Regions from separate parts of the Homo sapiens genome. Here all the other regions are reported to be linked to region 1. Evidence: microRNA targets listed by miRTarBase, many of them from high-throughput screens and not tested one by one. Region 1 holds a microRNA gene; each other region holds the end of a gene's coding sequence.
The links. The annotated mature microRNA hsa-miR-502-5p reads AUCCUUGCUAUCUGGGUGCUA and lies in region 1 at 2,413-2,433, opposite strand. An mRNA with a match to its seed (bases 2 to 7 or 8) in the 3' UTR can be bound and repressed. Matches are read on the target gene's strand: a 7mer-m8 pairs with bases 2 to 8, a 7mer-A1 pairs with bases 2 to 7 and ends in A, and an 8mer does both.

Region 1 (4,103 bases):
CCAAGCTGCCCTTCAGTGGGTGAGGATAAATAAACTTTGTGCCTCCAGACAATGGAATACTATGCAGTGATAAAAAGAAATAAGCTGGTTACTATATGGGATAAATGGGGAAAAAAATGAAAGAAAAGAAATGAGCTATCAAGTCATGAAAAGATATGAGGAGCCTTAAATGCATAGTGCTAAGTAAAATAAGCCATTCTGAAAAGGCTGCATAATGTATGATTCTAACTATATGACATTCTGGAAAAGGCTAAACTATGGAGACAGAAAAATGATCAGCGGTTGCCAGGGGTTTAGGGTGGGGGAGGGGGGATAAATAGGCAGAACTCAGAGGAATTTTAGGGCAGTGAAACTATTCTGTATGATACTATAATGGTCATGCATGTCATTATACACTTGTCAAAACCCATAGAGTATATAACACAAAGAGGGAACTCTAATGTAAACTATGGTTTACATTAATAATTATATTTAAACTATTATTTAATAATAGTTATAATACATTATAATTATACTATTATTTAATAATAATGTCTCAACATTAGCCCATCAATTTTAACAAGTGTACAACACTCATGCAAGATGTTAATAGCGGAAACTGGGGTGTCTCGAGAATATATAACAACTCTATACTTTCCATTCAATCTTTTTGTAAACCTAAAACTGCTCAAAAAAGTCTATGAATTTTTAAAATATGAAAAGAAACTAAAAGAGCCATTTACACATAAGGAAATTTTGATGCTAAAAATCATCCTGTGTAACACAGAAATCCCCCTAGTAATGACAGAATAGAAATTTTAAGTCATTTAAACCAATGGTTCTCAAACTTCAGTGTGCATCAGAATCACCTGGAGGGCTGTTAAAACACAGATTGCTGGGCCCCACCCCTGACTTTCTGATTACCTAGGTCTGAGGTGAGGCCTGAGAGTTTATTTCTAACAAGTTCCTGGAGGATGCTGATGCTGCTAGTCTTGGGCATCAAGAGAGGTATAAAGTCTGATAAAATAAGACTAAGGCTGAGCAGTAACCAAAATGAGATTTTAGAGTATACAAAAGATAAGGAGCACATATTAAATAACCTGAATCTTTACTGCAGGTTAGATTGGGAGAATCTGGGAGAGAAGAAGGACCAAGGATCAGAATCTATAAGTCCCAAATGTTTAAGAACTTGAGGACTGAAATGGAGTGTGTGTCTCTTTCTGTCTCTGTCACCACTATTTATAATACTGTATTGCTACGCTGACCTGAACACTATAAATTTGCAATGGGCAATGAGCAAAAATGATAAGATGGGGAGGAATGAATAGATCAGCTTAGCTAAGAAGAGAGTAACAACTGAAGAATACTGCTGAGGTCACAGTAGAAAGCACTCAGGCTCAGGCGCTAAGGATGGGAGGAGGGGAGTGAATCAGATCATGGGCACCTGTACTCCCTAGGTGAGAGAGAGAGAGAGATGGAGAGACGGACAGAGAGAGCGATAGACTGAAACAGAGACATGTATAGTCCATCTCTATTTGACTAAAGTAAGGTAATATAAAGATATAGGCTGTTCTCATTTCCATATTGTGTGGGGTGCATACAAGATCAGCAATAAGAAGGGTCCCTTGCTCTTCACCCCCTCTAATTCAAGAAGAGTCTGTAATAGACATCTAAAGGCAGCTCACAGTTCTACTCAGGATGTCCTGGAAGATAAAGGGCAGCTTATAAGCTCAAACTCCTATACATTCTGTAAGTGTAAATCTTCATGAATGTGTGCATCTCCCTGTCCTCAGAGGGGACAGAGTGGGGGGAATAGGAAGACTCTCTCTTTGGCCCCCATCATTTGTGCCCGTCTGAATTTTTCTTCTAAAGCTGCCCATCAGAGAGCACATCCAGTGATTTTGACTCTCGTTTGTCACTGCATCCTTAACACTAAAAAGAGTATCTGTCACACTCTAGAAACTCAAGATATAGGAAGGCAAGAAAAGAGACATATATGCACTCAGTCCATATATATACATATAGGTAGGCAAGGCTCCATCTCATTGAATCCTTGGCTTAATACTTGAGACAGCACTCACATCTAGGTTGGAAGGAAGTGAGGGAGCAAATCAGAAGGCTCTGGTTCCCGCCCACCACCCTGTGTGTGGACAGCAGGTGGGGAACACAGAGAAAGCTCACTGTCTCACTCTGGATACCTGCATACATGGACATTATTTAATAAGGACATTTATTCTAATACACAGACAAGCCCACCAGAGCACCTGAAGTCCCTAACTATTCTGTTCTGTGCTTCCCCAACACACACCCATCACTCAAAAACTATGACAGGGGAGGGTGGGAGGGGTGATGTCTAGGCTCTCTGTCCTTCTTGGTACAGTTGAGCTCCCCCTCTCTGAATCCTTGCCCAGGTGCATTGCATTGAGCCAGCACTAGCACCCAGATAGCAAGGATTAGAGAGGGGGAGCAGGGCAGAAGGCTTGGGCACCTGCCGTGCTCGAAGCAGAGAAGGTTCTCTGTTACACAGCTCTGTGTGAGAACAGGAATGAGAGTCTTGCATTGTGTATATGTTGGGAGAGGGTGTCAATAAGAAGTCCCATGTTGTGGCCCACACTAACTCAGCACGTGCAGGAATATTAGGTGACAAAAAGTCAAGTCTCCTACACATATTCTTTGAGGCAAGAACCAAGTCCATCTTGTGTGATACCATATGCCCACTGCCCTGGCAGCACAGCGTTAGCATGTACTAAGTGCTCAATACTTGTGAAAGGGAGGTAGAGGGGAAGGAGAGGGAGGAGGAAGTGTGACTCACAGGCACTTTGTCTGTCTATGGGCAGAAAAAGGCCCCTCTGAGAGTCCTGGAATAGGTGCTGCACTGAGACAGCATGCACATTTAGGTGGCAAGGATACAAGGGGAAGCAGAGCAGCAGGCTCAGGATGTGCACACCACATATATTTGCACAGGTACCCATGTCTGTGGGAGGGAATAAAGAAAAGCCTGATTTCTGGCACCCTGAGCCCATGTATTCACAGGAAGTTGGATGACATGAGGATGCTTATTCTCCATGAGCCTGCTAGACAGTAAGGTCGGCATCTCTGACAGGTTAGTTTACTGTGGCATTCCCAAACAGCAGGAATTCAGTAAATTTGTTAAAGGGATGAATAAATGAATGGACCAAAAACATGCACACACAAATGACTGACTGAAAGAATGAACAAAGGAAAGAGAAGGGATGGACAGGCTCTGTCCTACACATAGGCAAGGCTCACAAGCTGGTATCCTTGCACAAGCCCATTGCACTGCTAAGACAGCACTTGTGCCTAGGCTGCAAGGCTAGGAGAGGGCAAGCAAAAATCAAAGTCCAGGCACCTGCACACCAGGCATGCATCTGAGTGTGTGTGGCAAGGAAACTTGCAGGCAAGTTTAGATAATAAGGCTCCTTCCTTTCAGCTTTGTACAGAAATGTTTCTACACTTACACATGTGTGTGTGCACATGCATGCACAATGTGAGCATGTGTATTCATAAGAGAATGAGAAGGCTCAATTCCTGACACACCTGTGTCTGTTGCCTAGGCCTGGGGAAGTCTAGGCACCTAATACCTCCACTAGATAGGAAGTCCCGGAGAGAGACACTGTCCATTATTTAGCAGGGTACTCCCAGCACAGCTCATGGCACATCAAAAGTGCGCAATAAACACGGGCTACTTGGATTGTTCAGCAGAAGATTCACGATGACAAGGCTCACCCTCCTGTAATCCATGCACACAGGAGGTGTTTTGAGAATTCACAACTCCGATATGCAATGGGTATGGGAGAAGGAGCAGTTCATTCTTCTGCACATGGGAGGGGGGTGGGGGAGGAGAGAGAAAGAAAGACAGAAAGAGAGAAAGAGAGAGAGAGGAGAGAGATTGATTGATTGATTGAGAGAGAGACAGATTGAGATTAAAGTGTCAGGTGCACGCCTGGAGAAGCAGTGCCAAGTCTATTCCCTAATAAAGTACTTGTTGTGTGTTCACTTAGCCTCATGTGCTCACTGAATGTGTGGTTATGGAGGAGGTGGAGACAGTAATGAAATGATGGCTTCCCTGCCACAGTCTGCATGGACTCGGCATTGGGAACGTA
Region 2 (4,000 bases), not on the chromosome of region 1:
AGCCAACCTACTGATCATACTTTCCCCATCTGATCCCAGCAATGCATCTACCATGAGGCTGCAGCAGGAGCTGGAGGGAAGGCTCTGTGTTTTGCTTAGGAAACACATTTTATTTCCCACATTAAAGCAAGCTGAGGGTTGCTGGGAGATGATGCGGTACCCCCAACAAAGAAAGGATCAGGCTCCATAGGGTTGGCAGCAGCAAGCTGGAGCTGGTGGCTTCAAGGAAGAGCAGGGGTTACCTCTCAGTGAGGGAAAAATAGGTGGTAAGAACAGGTGTACCCTTGGGCAAAGAACTCCATCAAGACAGGTATCAACAACTGCACCAGGACTGCCAGGTGCCCCAGCTGCACCTCGGGACTGCCCAGCATGAGCACACACTGTGCTGACAGCCTCCATGGTGCAACAACAGGGGTGAGAAGGCATCGCACCTACCTGTGGGGCCTGGAACCTCTGGGTGTATGGGCATCTCCTGCTTACCTATGACACCAGAACAGTATACTTATTCAGCAAACGCTCTTGTTCAACACATAGGGGCAGTATAGGCCCAGCTGCTCCATGCTTATTATGGTCACGAAAATCATTCCCAACATTTTTACTTTTTTTTTGAGAGAGAGTCTCACTGTGGCTGAGGCTGGAGTGCAGTGGTGCAATCTTGGCTCAGTGCAACCTCCGCCTCTCAGGTTCAAGTGATTCTTGTGCCTCAGCCTCCAAAGTAGCTGGGGTTACAGGGGTGCGCCACCATGCCCAGCTAATTTTCCTATTTTTAGTAGAGACATGGTTTTGCCATGTTGGCTAGGCTGGTCTCAAACTCCTGATCTCAAGTGATCTGCCTGCCTCGGCCTCCCCAAGTGCTGGTATTACAGGCCATTCCCAACACTCTTAATGCACTTTGCATGCCCCCTGCTGACTCAGTGCTTCCTTGGGACATGGACAGAACAAAGCTGGAGGGCATGGATGCAAGGTCTGAGTGCACATAGGACCATAAAGCATCACCATGCAACATTGCTAGAGGTGGCAGCAATTGTCAGCAATTGCAGCTACTAGCTAAGAAAAAATAAGAGGCCTGGGCTCAGTGGCTCACCCCTGTAATCCTAACACTTTGGGAGGCTGAGGTGGGCAGATCACTTGAGCCCAGGCATTTGAGGCCAGCCTGGGCAACATAGTGAGACCCCATCTTTACAAAAAATACAAAACCCAGCTGGGCATGGTGGTGTGTGCCTGTGGTCCTAGCTGCTTGGAGGTTGAGGTGGGAGGATTGCTTGAGCCCAGGAGTTTGAGGCCACAGTGAACCATGATTGTGCCACTGCACTCCAGTGACACTGGGTGACAGAGTGAAATCTTGCCTCAAAAATTAAAAAAAAAAAAAAAAAAAAAAGGGGGTGGGCACGGTGGCTCACGCCTGTAATCCCAGCACTTTGGGAGGCCAAGGCAGATGGATCACTTGATGCCAGAAGTTCAAGACCAGCCTGGCCAACATGGTAAAACCCTGTCTCTACTATACACAAATAATTAGCTGGGTGTGGTATCACATGCCTGTAGTCCCAGCTATTCATGAGGCTAAGGCAGGAGAATCACTTGAAGCCAGGAGGTGGAGGTTGCAGTGAGCCAGAATTGCACCACTGCTCTCCAGAGACTCTGTCACCACAAAACAAACAAAAAAAGAGAGATCAGAGCCTCTATGGTAGCAACCTCTATGGTATAACTAAAAGGTAGACCTTTTTAGTTGTGACTAGTTGTGTTAAGGGCACTGACAATTGCTTAAATTACAAGTAGAATTCTTAGTTTCAAGTCTTAGTCGACGGAATGCTGTGATTGAAAATACCAACTTCCTTTAAAAATATGCTAGAAATCAGACGGAGCCTGGTTTAGCAAGGTCTTAATGTACCTTGTGTTAATCCTAACATATATTGTTCAGGTAATAACCTAAGATCGATTTTTGTTCCTAAGGATTAGGAACTTTTAGGCTGAGCGCAGTGGCTCACATCTGTAATCCTAGCACTCTGGTGGCTGAGGTGGGAGGATTGCTTGAGCCAAGGAGTTAAAGACCAGCCTGGGCAACATAGGGAGATCTAGTCTCTACAAAAAATTTTAGAAAATTAGCCAGGCACACGCCTGTGGTCCCAGCTATTCGGGAGGTTAGGTGGGAGAATCACTTGAGCCGGGGAGGTTGCAGTGATCTGTGATCATGCCACTATGCTCCAGCCTTGATGACAGAGTGAGACCCTGCCTCAGAAAGATAAAAGTAAAGACATTTAAAAAGGATCAGGAACGTGTGTGTGTGTGTATGCGTGTGTGTTTGATTTGGGTATGGAAAAGTGAGAAGAGGCAGTTTGAGAACTTTTTTCCCTCTACTGGCAGAAAAGGGCCAGGCAGCCACAACCACAAGCAAAAGTAGGTTAGAGAAACTTGTTATTAAATTTATTTTTCTTTAAATATGTAACTTTCTCCCACCCTCACCCACTCCAGGGAGGAACAGAAAATCCCCACCCCCTTCCATTCTGGAGATTTCGTATCTAAAGCCTGAGAGGCGAGGATGAAGTATAAAAATACTATTTACAAAGGGAAGGAGGTATCTGTTGCTTAACCGTAGACACCCCCATCCCCACACCCCTTTTGATCAAAAAAAAAAAAAAAAAAAAAAAAAAGGCCCCTGGGAATCAATTTAAGTATAGAACTAGCCCTCCTCTAGAGGGGCCCACAAACCTCAACATGGAATAGGAAGCTCCGAGATTAACTGAGGAAGAGACTGAATGGATAGCACCGTGGGTCCTGGCAGGGGAAGGGCCCTCTCTTACTCTGGAGTCAGCTGGCGCCCGCCAGCCTTTGTTTCCATAGGTCCCATGTAAACACTGACATTTTCCTTTATGTCCCTGCTCTTCTGTTTCATACAGAGCCTCCCTCGCCTCCCGTGGAGGCGCTTGGTTCCTTGATCTTTCCTTCCTTCCCTTCTAACCTTACTCCGGAAGGAGTGGGAAGGGGAGGGAAGGTTGTAGAGAGGTAAGAGCCCGTCTCATCCCTTCTGGGTCAAGGCAGCTCATCCTCCTAATGGGAGCCTTGAAAGAGGACTTTCTCCATGTTCTTGATCGGGGTGGACACCTTCCCCCAGAACAGGGACAAGGCAGGTAGATAGTCCAGTACCAGGAGACAGTGGTCTTGATGGGTGAGGCCACCAGCATGGAGTAGCAGGGAAGAAGGCTTCAGGAGGCAGGAAGTGGGGGCACATCTGGCACTGGTCTTGCACTGAGGGTAGAAGCCCAGTCCTAGACCACCCTTCTCATCACTGGGAAAGTGATCGTCATCACCCTACAGTCCTGTTGGTTGGAGCTGTGCAGAGGGACCAGACATCCATGAGGCAAGAGGTCTTCTCCAGGTCTCGGTGTAGCGGCAGCACTCACACCAGCTCATCCAATAGAATCCCAATGTTCTGCGTGGCCTCTGAGGGACTAGCAATGGGCTTGTTACACATGGGGCAGACACAGCGAACTTCCAGCCATTTCACCAGACACCTGAGAACAAATGAGGAATGGTAATCTCTAACCAGACAGACCACGCTGCTCCAGTTGTCTCTCAAAACAAGAATATCCCGTGGTGGCTCACAACTGTAATCCCAGCACTTTGGGAGGCTGAGGCAGGTGGATCACCTGAGGTCAGGAGTTCGAGACCAGCCTGGCCAACATGGTGAAACCCCATCTATACTAAAAATACAAAAATTAGCCAGGCATGGCGGTGGACACCTGTAATCCCAGCTACTTGGGAGGCTGAGGCAGGAGAATCGCTTGAACCTGGGAGGCAGAGGTTGCAGTGAGCTGAGATCGCACCATTGCACTCCAGCCTAGGCAACAAAAGCAAAACTCCAACTCAAAAAAAAAAGAAGAATATCCCTACCCCTGTCCCAACCTAATCCCTCTGGGCTTTGCTCGGTGTTCACGTAGGACCTGGGGCATCACGGATAAGGGGCAAATAGAAAGTGGCAGAGACTGGAAGTTTCCAGAAGATG
Region 3 (4,103 bases), not on the chromosome of region 1:
TGGGGATCTGAGTGCGGCGTGTCAGTGTGCAGTGGAGTGTGCAGTCTAAGCTTGCGGCTGTCTCCAGGCAGAAGAGGAGACCCCGGCGCGGGCGGGGGCGGGTTGGCGCCGGGCAAACGCCTTGGGTAGAGGGGAGAGGACGTTTCGTTAGTTCCCGCCCCTTCCTGACTAAAATTGCCTACCCGAAGCGCCCCGGAGGGCTTCACGGGAGGAGGGTAGACTCTCCTTTGCCCCCGCACCCCCACCCCCGCTGCCTAGGGGTTTTGGGAAAGCCGCGGGAGTGGGAGGGAATGCGGGAGGTGATTCTTCCAAAGCCAAGTCTGCAGCTCGAGCCTCAGTTTCCCCATCTGGAATTCGCCTTCCCGCTGACATCTCCGTAGCGAAGCCTAAGAAATTGGAGGGCTCATCCTCTTCTTGCGGGGGTCAAGGGGACTGAAAGGACGTGCAGGAAATGAGATCCATCGCAGACTCAGCTCCCCTCCCTCCTTCCTGTCGGTGCTTTTCCACTCACTCGCCTGCTCTCCCATCTCCCCGCCCCCTCCGCCTGCCTCCTCGAAGCACTGTGGGATTCCGAGGTTGCTGCAGCCAGAGAAGCTGCAGAAAAACACGGAGCTGGGGGTGAAGGGGGACTTAAAAGGGGAACTACCCGGAAGGACCCAAGAACACAAAGACAGAGCCACTGCGGTTATCTGGCTGGTCAGCAAGGGTATGCGGCTTCCTCCGCGCTGCGGAGGCTCCCAGAGCCAGGTCACCCATTCTGCCAGCTCAAGTCTGTTGTCATGGGAACCAAACCTTCCAACTTAAGAATCTGGGGGCGACTTTCTAGCGTGGGAGGAAGGGTGGTGTGCACGGTTGCTGAGATGGAAGCAGGGTTTTGTTACTCAGAGCCAGGCTGCGGAGGGGCGGGGTGCCGGGCGCCTGGGTTCTATTCCAGGCACAGCAGCAGACTGGCAGAGCGCGTGAGCAGCTGTGGTTTGTCCCCTAATTGGTATGTGTGCCTATAAAGCTCTGAACCAGAAAGGCGTGGCCTCCGGGGGGACGGGAGGGAGGCGGCAGGCAACCCATCCCCACACCTCAGGCCATACTGAGGAGGCAGCTGCCCAGGCTCCAGGGCTATTTAAAAGGCTTTTATTTCCAGTTCCAGAGCCCGCCCGAATGGGTTTGTGGTCCTCTCCAGGCCTCTCCCTGTCTATCCTGGGCCTGCTCATTGCTGGTCTGGCTTTTTTGTGCAGGTCATAACGTGCTCAGACAAGTATGGCTCCAAGTGGCAAGTCATCTGGAGCATGACCTCAGGCTCCCAACCTCTGCTGGGCAGGCTCAGGTTTCCACCCCAGGGTAAACCCCTCTACTCTGGAATGTGGTCTGTGGCCACCAACAGAGCAGAGGGGATGAGAAAATGGGAGCCAGATGCTTCCCTCAGCAAGAGACACAGGTACTGCCAGGAAACCTTGCGTGACATCTGGGAACATGAAAGGTTCCAAGTGAGTTCCAAAAAAGGGCTCCAAACCAAGTAGCAGCAATGTGGAAGAGTCAGGGAGCTGAACCAGGCGCCCACTCCTTTACTGTGGCCAAACGGCCCTGAGGTGAGCTCTGGTGGGGCAGCAGCCACCATGTATTAATCATCTCTAGCCCTGTGCCCAAGTAAAGTGTCTGGCACCTTTAGCTTTTTCACAGTGATTTGTCAGGTCAACCAGGGATTTGAGGCAGGAAAGACTAGAGGAGCCTGGACTAGAGTGAAAAGAAAACAGCTCAGAAATTCACACAGGAAGCTGTAAGGCAGTACTGTTTCAATGCTTTATTAACAGTTGGAAACAAAACCAACAAACTGGAGGTGATGACATCCCAGAAGCCTATGAGGCAAGGGAAATAGGTTTGCATTTTGTCCCTCACACCTCTCTCTCTCTCTCTTTTTTTTTATTAAATGCATCTTAGCAAAAGTAGATTAAAAAAGAAAGGGTCAAAGCCCCAGATGTCAGCGAGCAGGGAGGAGGTGACCCAGGGGAGCAACAGACGCCCTGCATCAGAGTCCTCCCAGGAATAGTCCAAAGGAGCTGCTCTTGCCCCTTTATACACAAGCGCCAGCAACCAAAACCCTCCCTCCTGGCAATAAGGCCTCACTATAGTTGCCCTCATGCTTCCTAAGCTCTCTCTTGCTCTAATAACTCTAATTCTGGGCCAAGCCCAAGAGTGCCATTCTTTCTTCCTAGCTGGGGATGGAAAGCTGAGAGGGGCACAAGGAGGGCAAAAGTATCACCCTAAGCCAGAGAATTGCAGCTTCCTGTGGTTGGGGCCACCAAACAGTTCAGTGTGCCCACCCACTTCTCTTTTAGAAGAGAGCTGGGGTACAGTGTATGAAGGCACTCCTGGTGCCCAGTTCCCCAGAATGTCCAGTTAGCATCTGCACATTTGGCTTGATACATTTATACATTTATAAAAAACTCTGTGGTCTTAGAGTTCCTGCTACTCTTAGGCCTGGCCCAGCTCAACCAGAGAAGGGGTTCCTCCTGTGTCGGATTCCCTGGGAGAGAGGATCTGCCTTGGACTCAAGGGTCCAGAAGGTCCAGGGGCACATTCAGGATTGGGCCTGTGAGAAGAAATCCCAGAACTCTGTAACCTGCCACCAAAGCTTCTTACATTATGGAGGGGAAAGGGGGAAGGAACAGTTTTCTTTAAAAAAATTTTTTTTTTCATACAAAAATAGATCCATTTGCAAAACAATTTCTCAGCCAGGAGGCTCCACCTCCCATTTCCTTGTAGACAGAGGGTGAGGTGTTGGGATGGTCACAGTACAACCCATAGTCCAGATGAGATGCACCAAAGCTCAGGGAAGGCATGAGGAGGGAAGGTGGCTCAGTAGCCTGGGGTTGGTGCAGAGCGTCCAGAGAGGCAAGGGCATAAAGCGTGGCAGAAGCTGGGGGCAGGTCCCACACTGTCGCTATGCCCTGCCTGCCTGCCCACAGGCTCTGGCCTGGGCCACAGCACAGCAGGGAAACTGGTCCAGATCCTTTGCTTTGGAGGCCTTTCCCAGGAAGGTGGGGTAAAGGTGGGATTTGCTCCCTGCTTCCTTAGGAGCAGCTCCCAGTGCCACACCACTAATAATAAATAACCACAGCCAGGAGAGGGAAGAGCAGAGACAACAGCAATGAAAGGAGGGATCTAGCCCAAAGGTTTACAAGCCCCATGCTATTCTCAGGGCCAGAGAAACCACAAAAGAAAAGCACAAATCCAGCAAGACTGACCTAGGGGGGAAAGCCCATTAGAAAGTCAGGGCTGAGAAAAAGCAGGCTGGGCCTTGTCTGAGATGAGGCCCTCTGAGTAACAGAGAGGAGACAGGGTTAAGGCAGCAAACATGGACCCTGCTTTGGTAATACAACAGCCAGGGCTGGCTAAGTCGGGCTCAGGCCTCCCCTGCACTGCCCTTTCCTTCTGGCCTCCAGGCAGCTGAAGCTGTATGTGATGTTGAGAGAGCAGCAGGCCAGAGAGAAAGACAGGGTCAGGGTGGTGGGAGTGGCCACCCCAGAGGAATATCCCCTTGAGCCTTTAGGCACATGCTGCAGGGCAGGACAGTCTGCGGCTCCGCTGAGGAGCTGCCGCGGTCACAGGACCCACATTAGCTTGCACGGCCAACCAACTCCTTGGCTTCCTCAAGGATTGTGGGGAATGTCTCACTGTTCTTGGACACCTTGGCAGGAACAGCAGCCATGGCATCATCCTTGGTCAGCTCCGAAGCTAGCAGAGATGTGACTGCACACCCGGCCTTCCTGTTGGCTGCAAGAGAAGACGAGAGATTCTGTCTATGGAAGGCCTCATTTCTAATTTCTTTCAAACTCTACAGCAGATAATCAGCGTAAGCCATGCAGACATGACTACCTTGGCCACTTCACAGAGGCCCTTACTTTGAAGAAAGGGGCAGAGATCCAGCATGTGGAATATATTGTTGGGTGGCAAAGAATGTAAGAGAGTGTGGTGCAACAGGAAAGCAAGCCTTGCCCCCTTGCTTCCCTGTGTGAAAACAGCACAAAAGTTTGAACACAGACAGACAGAACTGGGCTGAAGTGTTAGCTATGTGACTTAAGGAGAGATGAAGTATTCAAAGTCTATTT
Region 4 (4,103 bases), not on the chromosome of region 1:
TGCTTCCTCTGTTTGCTAGGCCAGGGATGTACCCTGACCCCCACAGTCCCTTCGCTGTCTCTCCAATCCCTGGCCGCGGAGGTGTCCTTAATGTCCCCATTTCACCAGCCCTCTCCCTGACTCCCACCATCTTCTCCTATAGCCCATCACCAGGCCTGAGCCCTTTCACCAGCAGCAGCTGCTTCTCCTTCAACCCTGAGGAAATGAAACACTACCTTCATTCTCAAGCTTGTTCTGTGTTCAACTACCATCTGAGTCCTCGGACTTTTCCCCGTTACCCAGGGCTCATGGTTCCACCACTGCAGTGCCAAATGCATCCTGAGGAGTCAACTCAGTTCTCCATCAAGCTGCAGCCCCCACCAGTTGGGCGGAAGAACCGGGAGAGGGTTGAGAGCAGCGAGGAGTCAGCACCAGTCACCACGCCCACCATGGCTTCTATTCCCCCAAGAATCAAGGTGGAACCTGCCTCTGAAAAGGATCCTGAGAGCCTCAGGCAGTCGGCACGAGAGAAGGAGGAGCACACTCAAGAAGAGGGCACTGTGCCAAGCAGGACCATTGAAGAGGAAAAAGGCACCATCTTTGCCCGTCCTGCTGCACCACCCATCTGGCCCTCTGTGCCCATTAGCACCCCAAGTGGAGAACCTCTGGAGGTGACTGAAGACAGTGAGGATAGGCCTGGCAAAGAGCCCAGTGCACCTGAGAAGAAAGAAGATGCACTGATGCCCCCCAAGCTTCGGTTGAAGCGGCGCTGGAATGATGACCCTGAAGCCCGAGAGCTGAGCAAGAGTGGCAAGTTTCTCTGGAATGGGTCAGGACCCCAGGGCTTGGCAACAGCAGCTGCTGATGCTTAGAACTGGAAGTGGATTAGGAGCTGTTTATACTATAATCAAATACATACATGTATTTATGTAGCAAGATTTCAGGGTGGGGGGGAGGGAGTTAAACTGGTTTGATCATTCTAGGGGCATAGACTTGTATTTTTATGTTTTGGGGATGGGATGGGGTTATCTTCTGTTGTAAATTAGGTGGGATATGAACACACTTATTTTCCTGGTGAGTAGGACACAGGGAGGGTATTGAACTCAAAGGAGAAGGAGCCTCTATTTCCTGTTGAGGCTTATACTTTCTGACAAGGAAACTCCCAAAGGGCCAAGATACTTTTTGGTCCCATGATAGTCAGGTTCCAGACTTCTTTCTTTTCTATTGTATTTGTATGTGGAAAGCCATTAATGAATTTATTTTACTCCAAGAGATACACATAAAAGGGAAAAGGGCATGGTTGGGAGGTTGAGCAGTAAGAGACCATTAATACTAAGTATTTTGCCTGAAATGCTTCTTTATAATTATTTCAGGGAAGGAATAAGATAATCTCAGACTTACTGGGGTGGGGCTTGGGGAATGTTTGGATGTTGCTCTTTTTCTTCTTCCTTCTTTTTTTTTTTTTTTTTTTTTTGGTTGGTGTTGTTTGGCATTTTTTTCTTTTCCTTTTTAAAGAAAATGTTTTCAGGAAACATGAACAAACATACTGCCAATTATAGTGGGGCTGGGAAGGCACAGGAGCTGGCGACCTCTCAGCTGCATAGTTGGGACGGCAAACCCTGCTGTGAGCTTCTCAGACTTTTCACCTACTTCACCTATTAAGAAGCCATGAGGAGTTGTAAACTCTTGTTCAGGGAAGAAAAGAGGGCAGGAGGAAGTAACCCAATGCCTTTAAATACAAAACAGATGAAAAACAAAATACTCATTTTTCCTTTTCTATTGTGGGTTTGGGGAGCCAAACCAAGTGTGACTGTGAGCACGTTCACTGAGAGGCATGACAACATTATTGAAGAGGTCTTTCCATTATGTCTGGTTCTCTTATTTTCTTAAGTCAAGCCTTAACTATGAACATACTTTAAGATGATACGGGTCTGTCACCATAAACCTGTAAAAGGGCATCGACAGCTTTTCAGATAATCCAGGAATGTTGAGACATGGCTAAGTTTCTAGCTGATACTTAGTCATTCCCTCTTGATATTGTTGGGATGGGTAGCCAAAAGGCAGGCTTGTGGGAGTTAAGAGCCAATGATACCTGGAAACATGGGAGGTAGCTGGGGGTACAAGTGGATGTTGAGACTGAAGGAAGAGGTGGAAAGAAGACACAGAAGGCACCCAGATGCCAAAAGGCCTGGCATGAATGAGAGTTGGCATCTGTCCTGTTGTGGTGTTCCCATTCTTGCCATACCCATTTGCCCAGATTGTTCTGATTCTCATGTTCAATTGACTATCCCACATGAGACTACAGTTTATAGGCAGTGAGGAATTGTTTCTTCCTGGGAAATGTCCTTCCAGCAACTTCAGAGGAATGGGAAAGTGTTAATCTTACGTGAAGCAAAGGAGCCTGGACTAGGGGCAGAGAGAAAGAAGCAGCAGCCCACCTTCTTTGTGTTTGCACATGTGCCTATGTCGTGTACATTGGTACCTGACTGTGGCTCAGATCTGCGTCGCAGCAGCGAGAGAAGAAATCACTCCATATCCGATGAGAGGAAGGGTGGCACAGAGATGGTGTCTACAATTAGAGACATTTCTGACTCCACCTTAGCCTAAGCAAACTTTATATACTGAGTAACATTTGAAGGTTGTCTTTTAATGGTGGGGGGTGTTTTTTCCTTTTTAAACTACAGTGCTTGCACAAGAGAGGGAGGGACTCAGAAAAGGTTAGGGCAGGTGAGGGAGACAGTAGATGGCCTGGGATGACTTGAGTCCATCATACTATTGCTTGGCAGGTGTCCTCCCCCATGTTTGATTCAAATTCCATGAGTGACCTACCTTTCCCCAGGAATGGGACTGAGAGGGTAGTCTCCAGCAACTCAGTCTGCACAGGGCTCCCCGTTCAGGCTGCCTTTGGTGGTTGTGCTTTTGTAAGTTTCTTTCTCTGCACTTCGACTTACCTCTGAATCAGAAAGCAAGCCCAGCAGGTGAATGAGGGATGTCTGCTTGGCATTGCCCAATCTAACCAGGGAGGCTGGCTGGCCACCCACTGTCCGCTAGAGGGGAGAGCTAGCAGGTGTTGGTATGAACTCAGGAATAGAAACACGAGGCCTTTTTAAATACGAGGGAGAAGAATCCATGATGCATACCTGTAACCCCCTAGAACCCAAGTGCCAGAATTCCTAGATGCTGCTTCTGTTTGAACAAAATGTCACTGCTTTTACACTTGAAAAAAACACACTCGAAAAATGTTCAACTCCATGAAAAATATTTTTTGGCTTTAAGAAATTGTTTGGTGTTTAACTGTTTCCTTTGATTGCCATTCCACCAGTAAATTGTTGGTTGATTTGCACTGCACTCTGGGGTTGGGGTTGGGAGGGGAGGGTCCTTATACAGAGCCGAACCTGGGGTTGCTCAGGAAGTGGGCCAGGGAATGTGGAAGTCGTTGACATTGCCTGGGCCAAAAGAGTGGGAGATAGTTTTTCTCCCCTCAGCCCACTCCTGGTAGCACCTGTCGCCAGCCTGGTACAAAGCCAGGCCTTTTTCTTCTGTGAGCATCTCATCACTGTCCAGCAGCAGGTGGAAAAAGGGGGACAACAACCAGACCTATTTTTTCTCCCCCATTTTTTCCAAATTTTGCTGTGCCAAATGTTTAAAATTTTATAAATATGAATCTATTGAAATTTCCTTAATCAAGAGCTTCTTCGTGTAAAGTTTGCTTTTTTAGCTATAGAAAAAGAAAACAGTAAATATCTCTTAATGGCATCCAGCCTTGCTGAGCTCACCTTTTTTCCTGAAGAATGGGTAGGAGTGAAATATTTAATGTAAACATTTCACCAAGTCCCTTTACCCTAATTTTGAAGCTGCATTAAACCCAACTCACTAACACAGGGAATGATTGCACCCTAGTCCTCTGTGGGCCAAGAAACTTTCAGAAGCATTAAAAAAATAGTTGAAGTATATCACTTCTCACCAAGTGGGTAGAGTCAGTTGGCTGTTTGTCCCTTGTTTTTTATTTATTCCATAATTATGTTTGTGCTTTTTGTTTTGTAAACAGTAATGGAACGTACATTTTTATTTTGTTTAGAAGACAACTTTGATTCAATCTTTCAAGAACTGTTCCATTCTTGGTT
Region 5 (4,103 bases), not on the chromosome of region 1:
TGTTCTGGATTTCAGCTCCAAGGGCCTCACCTTCCTGCCGCCACCTCCTAGGACAGCCAGTCCAGGGCCATGAAGACCAAGAACCGGCCCCCACGGCGCCGGGCCCCGGTGCAGGACACAGAGGCCACCCCCGGGGAGGGGACGCCCGACGGGTCCCTGCCGAACCCGGGGCCAGAGCCGGCCAAGGGTCTGCGGAGCCGGCCGGCCCGGGCCGCAGCAAGGGCTCCGGGCGAGGGCAGGCGCAGGCGGCCAGGACCCTCCGGGCCCGGTGGCCGTCGTGACAGCAGCATCCAGCGGCGGCTGGAGAGCAACGAGAGGGAGCGGCAGCGGATGCACAAGCTAAATAACGCCTTCCAGGCCCTGCGTGAAGTCATCCCCCACGTGCGCGCGGACAAGAAGCTCTCCAAGATCGAGACGCTCACGCTGGCCAAGAACTACATCAAATCGCTGACGGCCACCATCCTGACCATGTCCAGCAGCCGCCTCCCAGGCCTGGAGGGGCCGGGCCCCAAGCTCTACCAGCACTACCAGCAGCAGCAGCAGGTGGCTGGGGGTGCGTTGGGGGCCACGGAGGCCCAGCCCCAGGGCCACCTGCAGAGGTACTCCACGCAGATCCACAGCTTCCGAGAGGGCACCTAGCGCCCAGTCCTGGGTGGGGGTGGCGGTGGCCGCAGCTGCCTGGCCTGCTCCTCCCAGCCCCAGTCCCTCCAAGCCACGAGCCCCAGATGGGCGGTGACACCCCACAAGGACACGGCCTCAGCGGTTCCATTTTCCCCCGAACATTCAGCCACTTCCCTGGAGCAATTTTTCCTGCCCCGCTGGGGACCAGCGAGTGGCCTAGTTGCGGCTGTGGCCCTGGACAGCGGCGTGAGGCCCAAACCTCTAGGTAGGGCCCAGTTGGATCCTGATTTTTCATTGAGCCAGGCAGTCTCAGCCCGAGTTGAAAGGCCTCCTTAGCCTTGGAACTAACGTCTCTTCACCCTGACTTCTGGGCAAGGGGAGATCCCAGGAAAAGGTTTACCTGCAGGTTTTCCAAGGCCAAAGCCCCAGCAAGGACCCCCTCTCCAACCTTTGTTATAGGGCTACATGGGGCCTGGGCTCAGCATCCTCATTTGGGGTAAACTGAGGCCCGGGACAAGCCCGGCAGAGCCTAAGGCTGCTCGGGGAGTGGGGCCAATCAGAGATGATTGGAGCTGCCAGAAACTCTAATCAGATGACCTCCAATTCATCCTTAAAAGTTGAATGGTGGGGAGGGGCTGGAGTCTCTTCCTCCCTCCTCCCAAGTTGGGGCTCCTGGATGTGTTGACTCCAGGCTGTGCCTGGTTGTGGAGGGTCTGGGGCAGGGTGTGAGGGGTGCTGTGGAACTGGAGCAGGAGACAGGGCTGGGTGTTCCTGGTGCAGCCCTTCTGGGCATGGGAGAGAAGCCCCAAGGCCCTGGGTTGCTCCCCAAGAGCAGCTCTGAGGCCTCCTGCTCAGCCCTGGCCTGTGTGGGGAGCGAGTGTGCCCCCCACCCAGCCCCTGCCACCGCCGTTACTTATTCTCACTGATGTGGGGTTATCATATAATTGGCACCATGCTGTCTGTAGGACATTATGACGTGCTTGGGTTCTGGTTTGAGTTGGCAGCCCGTTGGGTCTCTCTGCCTGGTGGAGCCTTGGGGTGGCAGGTACGTCCCTTCCCCCGCCCAGGTGCTTCATCCTCATGGCCAGGCCTGGTGGCTTGGCACGTCTCTGCTGCCCCAAGCCCAGCTTCCTTCTGCTGGGCGTTCCTGCCCCACTGGCTCTGCCGGACTTGGCTACTGGACTCTCCCCTCCCTCATGCCTCTGCCCAGAGATGTCCCAAAGGCCCTCAGGGCCAAGCCGGGCCAGGGATGTGGCTGCCACAGCTGAGACCAAGGGCTCTGGCTGGCCCGTCCCCACCAGGTGGCCCTGCCCTCCCCAAGTTGGGGGTTGTGGCACTTGGGGTCAGGCCTAGCCACGTAAGGACACAGGTAACACCCTGAGGATCTGGCATTGGCAGCTTCAGGCCTAACTTTCCTGGTCAGGGCCCCTTAAGGTGGCCCGGGCACATTGGTTTCATTTCGATGAGACTTTGTCAGAGGCCTGGTCTGGTCCTGGCCCTACCGCCCCAGCTGTCCTTCAGCACAGCTCGGGGTGGGGACTCCAGGATGCTGGGTCTGCCCCTTGGGAGGGGCACTCTGGAAGGTCAGGGTGATCCACAACTGTGAGCTGAGGTTGGATGCAGCTGGGAGCTTGGGACAGAGAGAGCCCAGGGCTCCCCTGCTGTGGGGCACCTGCCCAGCGGGGACATGAGATGACAGAGACCTCCCCGGCGGGGGTACTCAGGTGCTACGAACATGGCAGCTCTTGTTTCCGGCTGAGCCATGGCCAGAGCAGGGCTCAGTCTGCCCCTGAACTTGCTGAATGGACCGACGAGCTGAGCCTGAAAGCCCAGAAGAGCCTCGGTCCAGAAGACGGAGACTCGGCCCGGTGTCCAGCGCAGCCCAGGGCTTCCTGGGGGGCAGCAGGAGTGCCTGGGGGTCACCGCCTTCAGGACAATGGCCTCAGTGGCTCTTTCTTTCTGCCCTGAACTGGCACCTGCACCTCCTCTGCTTCCTAGAGGGTGACCTGGGCCGAGCCGCCCAGTCCTTCTTCCCCTGAGGCCAGAGGGGACGCCCCGCGGCCACATCACACAGGATCCTCAGCAGCCATAGTCTCGCTTCAGGGTGTCCAGTGTTTCGAGGAGGAGAGGGGACAGGGGCCAGGTCCACTCCCTTGGCCCTCCTCTTGGACCCCAAGGCCAGGCCGGATCCTTTTATCCCGTGGGGAGCCCCTGCCTCGGCCATCGGGATGAGGTCCCTCAAGTCCCTGCACAAGCAGGTCAGAGACCCACCCACATGCCGTTCCTGGGCTACGCCACGCGCCATCCCCCGGGGCTGTGGACGCACCCAGCCCCCGACAGACAGGCGCCCTGAGAGCTCCGAAGGCGCGATCCCCATCCCCACCAGTGGAGAAGCCAGAACCGCGATTGTTGCATCTGGGAAAACCCAGCTGGAGCCGAACGGCCCGTGCCCCCACTGTAATTGTGCTGAAAATGTTTCTCAAATGACCCAAATTGGCTCTTATTTTTTCTAATGGCCCTTTCAAAGTATTCATGAAATTGATGCTGTGTCATAAAACAAAAATAAAAGATTTCACAGCAATGTCTGCTTCAGGCACACGGGGAACCACGCGTTTTAATCAACGTATCGATAAAAAACACCAGGGCACGGACACTCCAGGGGAAATGCTTATTGAGTAAAGTATCCGAGGAAGTGATGCAGGGCAGGTAAACAGCTGGTGCTCAGCAGCGAGAGGACGCGTCACTCTGCCGTTCTGCAGGGTGACGCCCTCCCCGTACCTCGCTGAGAGCCACCTGCAGACACAGCAGGCCACAGCAGAATGCACAGGTCACTGTTGTAGGGGAACAAATCGTAATGCCCAGAGAAAACCTGATAGTGAAATGTAAACAGACAGGACAGGGTGGTTCCAGGTGGCCACCACCGCCAGGCCCTTCCCGTGATTGATCTGAGAGCTTCACAGCCGGCGGCACTGGGACCCATTTCCAGAAACACTGGAACACCAGGTCTCTCAGATGCCCGCGGGAGGGGCCCCAGGGAGGCCTTTCTCAGCATCAGCTTTTGGGTGACAAACCCCATACAGCAAAACTGTACAAATACACACAACGGACCCCCAGCTGACAGTGAGACCAGGACCCTAGGAAGGTCAGGTGGTGGTGAAGTCATCCCCTCTCCAACCGAGCAGAGCCTGGGGTTGGGCTCTGATGACCTCCCGGGCAAAGTGTCCAGGTGGAGGAAGCAAACTCCCAAATGGGGCACAGAGGTAATAAAAAGCAGCTGAGAGACTGCGGGATGGGGTCGGGGCCACTTGGCCGACACCTTCTGCCTCGCCTGGCCGGGCCGGGCCAGCCTCTCGCCACAGGATGGAGGGTGACTGTGCACCCTGCTCCATGTACAGGACGGGCTGAGGGTCCCATGGCCACTGCCGACAGACACAGTAGTACTGCTCCCCACAGAAGCCCGCAGTCTGCACCCTCCTACAACA
Region 6 (4,103 bases), not on the chromosome of region 1:
CCCACAGACCTGTGTCCCCTCCCTGGGGCTCTCTCCTCCAGGTGACCTTAATGCTGCTCGACCAGAATAACCGGGAGCACGTGATTGACGCCTTCAGGCCCGACGTGACTTCATCCTCTTTTCAGAGGCCAGTCAACGACATGAACATCGCAAGCGGCTGCCCCCTCTTCTGCCCCGTCTCCAAGATGGAGGCAAAGAATTCCTACGTGCGGGACGATGCCATCTTCATCAAGGCCATTGTGGACCTGACAGGGCTCTAACTGCCCCCTACTGGTGTCTGGGGGTTGGGGGCAGCCAGGCACAGCCGGCTCACGGAGGGGCCACCACGCTGGGCCAGGGTCTCACTGTACAAGTGGGCAGGGGCCGCGCTTGGGCGCTTGGGAGGGTGTCGGCCTGCAGCCAAGTTCACTGTCACGGGGGAAGGAGCCACCAGCCAGTCCTCAGATTTCAGAGACTGCGGAGGGGCTTGGCAGACGGTCTTAGCCAAGGGCTGTGGTGGCATTGGCCGAGGGTCTTCGGGTGCTTCCCAGCACAAGCTGCCCTTGCTGTCCTGTGCAGTGAAGGGAGAGGCCCTGGGTGGGGGACACTCAGAGTGGGAGCACATCCCAGCAGTGCCCATGTAGCAGGAGCACAGTGGATGGCCTTGTGTCCCTCGGGCATGACAGGCAGAAACGAGGGCTGCTCCAGGAGAAGGGCCTCCTGCTGGCCAGAGCAAGGAAGGCTGAGCAGCTTGGTTCTCCCCTCTGGCCCCTGGAGAGAAGGGAGCATTCCTAGACCCCTGGGTGCTTGTCTGCACAGAGCTCTGGTCTGTGCCACCTTGGCCAGGCTGGCTGTGGGAGAGGGTCTGGTCCCACGCCGCCTCTGCTCAGACCACTGTGTGGGAGGTGCACAGCACAGCCTGCGGGTAAAGTGTGAGAGCTTGCCATCCAGCTCACGAAGACAGAGTTATTAAACCATTCAAATCTCTGTGGTCAGTGGCATCCATTTGATTCCAGGTTGCCTGCGGCTTCCAGCCTTGGCAGTGGTGACCCTCTGCGGGTCCTCCTGGCCTCTCCTCTCACAGACCCCTCCCCACGGGGTGCCTAGCCCCTGCCTGCTTCTCTAGCTAGCCAGGCTGTGTTCTCTGTTCCTCACCTGATGTAAGCTCCCTCTTCTCGAGCCTTGTTCCCTCTTCTGGAATGTTCTTCCCTGTCCATCTCCTCTCCTGGGCCTCCCCAGGGACTCCTGTGAGAGCAGAATGAGGATGAGCCAGCCCTGGTCCTGCCTTTCTGTGCACAGGCTCCACCGAGCATCCTGGCTGCACCCGGGGGGTCCTGGCCACACCGAGGGTCCTGGCTGCACCGCCCCTGTGGTGTGTTTTTGGGACAGTGCAGGCAGGCGTAGGCACGGCTTCACACTCGGTGTCAGGGCAGCCGTGCTGGGACCTACTGGGCATCTGTATCGGGGTCCAGGATAAAGTGCTGTCCCCTCTCGACGTCTTCACGCACTGCTGTAGTTTGAGAAGTTGACCACAGAAAAGTACAGAAAATAACTCAGGCACGGAGCTGACCGACGGGCATTGTCTGTGTTCCGTGAGTGTGTACTGGGCCTAAAGAGCAAGCATTGCAGAGCCCTGCTGTTCCCTTTCCCGGCCTCACCTCAGCTCCCCAGGCCACGTGGCGGGAATTGAGGCGTTCCGGTTCTCTTTGGGCTTTAGAATTTTGCATCTGTACGTTTCTGTATTCACAAATAAGAATATTGCATTAAAAATGCAGAAACCATCCACTGGGTCAGCTGCAGGTAGCTGGGCTTTTGACTCAGCCTGGCTACTTTTAATGCATCTTGTGCTGGGCACTCTACATGGTGGATTCTGACTGCCGTGTGTGAGTTCCCTAGAGAGCACCTTCCAGTCTCTTCCCGTGTCTTCAGGGTTTGGTGACTGGAGATAGCCAGACCTGCTCTCGTGGGTCTCCTGTCAACCTGGAAGGAGGGTTGGTGGTTTCTAGGCCTCCCCTTTTTAGCAGTTGCCAGCTTGCTTTGCAGAGGGGCTGCATCCGGTCCTTCCACCAGCACCAGGGGGAGGGTTCCCATCACTCCCATCCCTCCCATCCCTGCCCGTGCTTCGTGTTGTTGGAATTGAGATGCTGCAGCGTGCTGTGTGTGAAGTGAAGTGGCATCGCTGTCACGTGCGTTTCTCTGATGACTCGGCGGAGTCAGGCGTCTTTACCACGCTTACCTCTCCCTTGGATTCTCTCCCGTGCGAATTGCCTGTTGATGTCTTTTTCTCATTTTTCTTCTGGTTGTTGGTCTGGGTCTTATTCTGCTGGTTGGTAGGAGTTCCTGATATTCCTGATTACGGATTCTCGGTTGTGTCTTTGAACTGCGTTTCTGTTGCTCCTGATGTGCAGAAGCTTAAGCCTTACACATGATCAGCTGATCTTATCCTTTATGAATGGTGCTATTTCCGACCGACTCAGAACATCCTGACCTTCCCTGAGGCTGGAAACCACTGTCATGTTTTCGTCTAATGATTGTGAAGTTTTGTCTTTAACATACTGGGCTTCTATATTTGGGGATTTGTTTGTATGTGACAGGTTTTGCTGGGTCACTGCAGTTTGTTAAAACAGATTGATTGAGGTCATCTCTTCTCACTTAAAACGAAATGGAACTGTGAAATGAGAGGAATGGACCAAAAAAAAATCCTCCCCCAGGGACAAAGATGGGGAAGAAGCCAACATCCCACAAAGGATTTGAACCCATTTTGGAAGGTGGGAAGTGGGTTGGTGGGTGGCTGCTGAGCAGAAGAGGGCTGAGGGGGAAGCTGGCCACACCGGGAGGCCCTGGCATGGAGCAGAGTCTAAAAGTGGATCAACTGAAAGACGGGGCAGAGCAGCTACCTTGGAGGTCCTTTGCCAGAGCAGCCGGATGGTCCTCCTGGCCCTCACCTCCCTGCAGTGGAGATGGAGGTCTGGAGAACCTGGGGAAGAGCTGAGGACCGCACCCCCCACGCAGTGAGAGCAGCATCGGGCTCCAGGCTGCAGAAGGGGCAGAGGTCTGCACTCGGAACAATTCCCTAGGCACTGGCTGCCACACCAAGAGGCTCCCACGAAGCAGACCAAGGCCCTTGAGGGACAAAATGCTCTGGAGCAGCCCCGTGGGCAGGCCTGGCCCAGCCGCCTCATGGCCTTCTGGGGAAGTGACAGGCTCTGTGCAAACCCACAGAGGTACCATCGTCACTACCTAATTTTGGGACATTTCATCACCCTGCAGAGAAACCTTCCCTTAGCAGTCACTGTTCCCTCCCGCTCAGCCCCTGACAGCCAGCCATAAACCTACCTTCTGTCTCTATAGATTTGCCTACTCAGGACATTCATGTGAATGTGGCCTTTGCTTTTACTCAGCAAGATATTTTCATGGTTCCTGTGTGTTGCAGCATGCATTGGAGTTTCATTCCTTCTAATGGCTGAATAATCTCTTGTATGGATGCACCACACCTTATTTATCCATTCATCCGTTGCTGGACATTTGGGTGGTTTCTACTTTTTGGCTACTCTGAAAATGCTGCTGTGAACATTTGTGAACAAGTTTTTATGGGGACGTGTATTTGTTTTCATTTCTCTTGAATATTTATACCGAGGAGTAGAGCTGCTGGGCCGCTTGTTCAGCTCTTGGAGGAATTGCCGAACTTTTGTGTCACCTTACATCTCCCTCAGGAAGTGTTTTTTTTTTTTTTTTTTTTTTTTGAGACGGAATCTCGTTCTGTCTTCCTGGCTGGAATACAATGGCACAATCTCGGCTCACTGCAGCCTCCGCCTCCCAGGTTCAAGCAATTCTCCTGCCTCAGCTTCCTGAGTAGCTGGGATTACAGCTGTGAGCCACCACGCCTGGCTAATTTTTGTATTTTTAGTAGAGACAGGGCTTTACCATGTTGGCCAGGCTGGTCTCGAACTGCTGACCTCAGGTGATCTGCCCACCTCAGCCTCCCAAAGTGCTGGGATTGCAGGTGTTGCACCTGGCCCCTAATAACATTTTTAAATTTCACGTAGTAAAATTGATTTGTTCTTTTGTTTTGTTCATGGAACATTCAATTCCATGGATGTTCACACCTGTGCAGATGTGGGTAA

Region 2: miRTarBase lists RNF122 as a target of hsa-miR-502-5p. Seed matches in the 3' UTR shown: 7mer-A1 at 2,926-2,932.
Region 3: the mRNA of DIAPH1 is a reported target of hsa-miR-502-5p. Seed matches in the 3' UTR shown: 7mer-A1 at 2,748-2,754.
Region 4: the mRNA of ETV3 is a reported target of hsa-miR-502-5p. Seed matches in the 3' UTR shown: 7mer-A1 at 1,131-1,137.
Region 5: miRTarBase lists BHLHA15 as a target of hsa-miR-502-5p. Seed matches in the 3' UTR shown: 7mer-m8 at 1,050-1,056.
Region 6: the mRNA of TRAF2 is a reported target of hsa-miR-502-5p. Seed matches in the 3' UTR shown: 8mer at 712-719.

What each region holds. Positions count from the first base shown.
Region 1 is chrX:50,012,943-50,017,045 of GRCh38, reverse strand. It overlaps MIR502 (microRNA 502), which reads right to left and starts at 2,448; the gene lies at 2,363-2,448. All of the region lies in intron 3 of CLCN5 (chloride voltage-gated channel 5), which reads right to left. MIR660 (microRNA 660) reads right to left here and starts at 3,805; the gene lies at 3,709-3,805.
Region 2 is chr8:33,545,359-33,549,358 of GRCh38, forward strand. RNF122 (ring finger protein 122) reads right to left here. Exons shown (of 6, transcript NM_024787.3): 6 at 2,396-3,509. The coding sequence ends at 3,395. Among named protein-coding and RNA genes, the nearest start is that of RNF122, 20 kb to the right of the region's middle. RefSeq lists a silencer at 483-552.
Region 3 is chr5:141,513,241-141,517,343 of GRCh38, forward strand. It overlaps DIAPH1 (diaphanous related formin 1), which reads right to left. Exons shown (of 28, transcript NM_005219.5): 28 at 1,781-3,768. The coding sequence ends at 3,611. LOC124901091 (a long non-coding RNA gene) reads left to right here and starts at 3,768. Exons shown (of 2, transcript XR_007058971.1): 1 at 3,768-4,103. RefSeq lists enhancers at 294-919, 465-584, 920-1,545, 1,325-1,574, 1,546-2,171 and 2 more.
Region 4 is chr1:157,121,589-157,125,691 of GRCh38, reverse strand. It overlaps ETV3 (ETS variant transcription factor 3), which reads left to right. Exons shown (of 5, transcript NM_001145312.3): 5 at 1-4,103. The coding sequence ends at 851. Among named protein-coding and RNA genes, the nearest start is that of ETV3, 15 kb to the left of the region's middle.
Region 5 is chr7:98,212,241-98,216,343 of GRCh38, forward strand. It overlaps BHLHA15 (basic helix-loop-helix family member a15), which reads left to right. Exons shown (of 2, transcript NM_177455.4): 2 at 16-3,217. The coding sequence starts at 70. The coding sequence ends at 639. TECPR1 (tectonin beta-propeller repeat containing 1) reads right to left here. Exons shown (of 26, transcript NM_015395.3): 26 at 2,384-4,103. Among named protein-coding and RNA genes, the nearest start is that of BHLHA15, 2.9 kb to the left of the region's middle.
Region 6 is chr9:136,925,642-136,929,744 of GRCh38, forward strand. TRAF2 (TNF receptor associated factor 2) reads left to right here. Exons shown (of 11, transcript NM_021138.4): 11 at 42-966. The coding sequence ends at 260. Among named protein-coding and RNA genes, the nearest start is that of FBXW5, 17 kb to the right of the region's middle.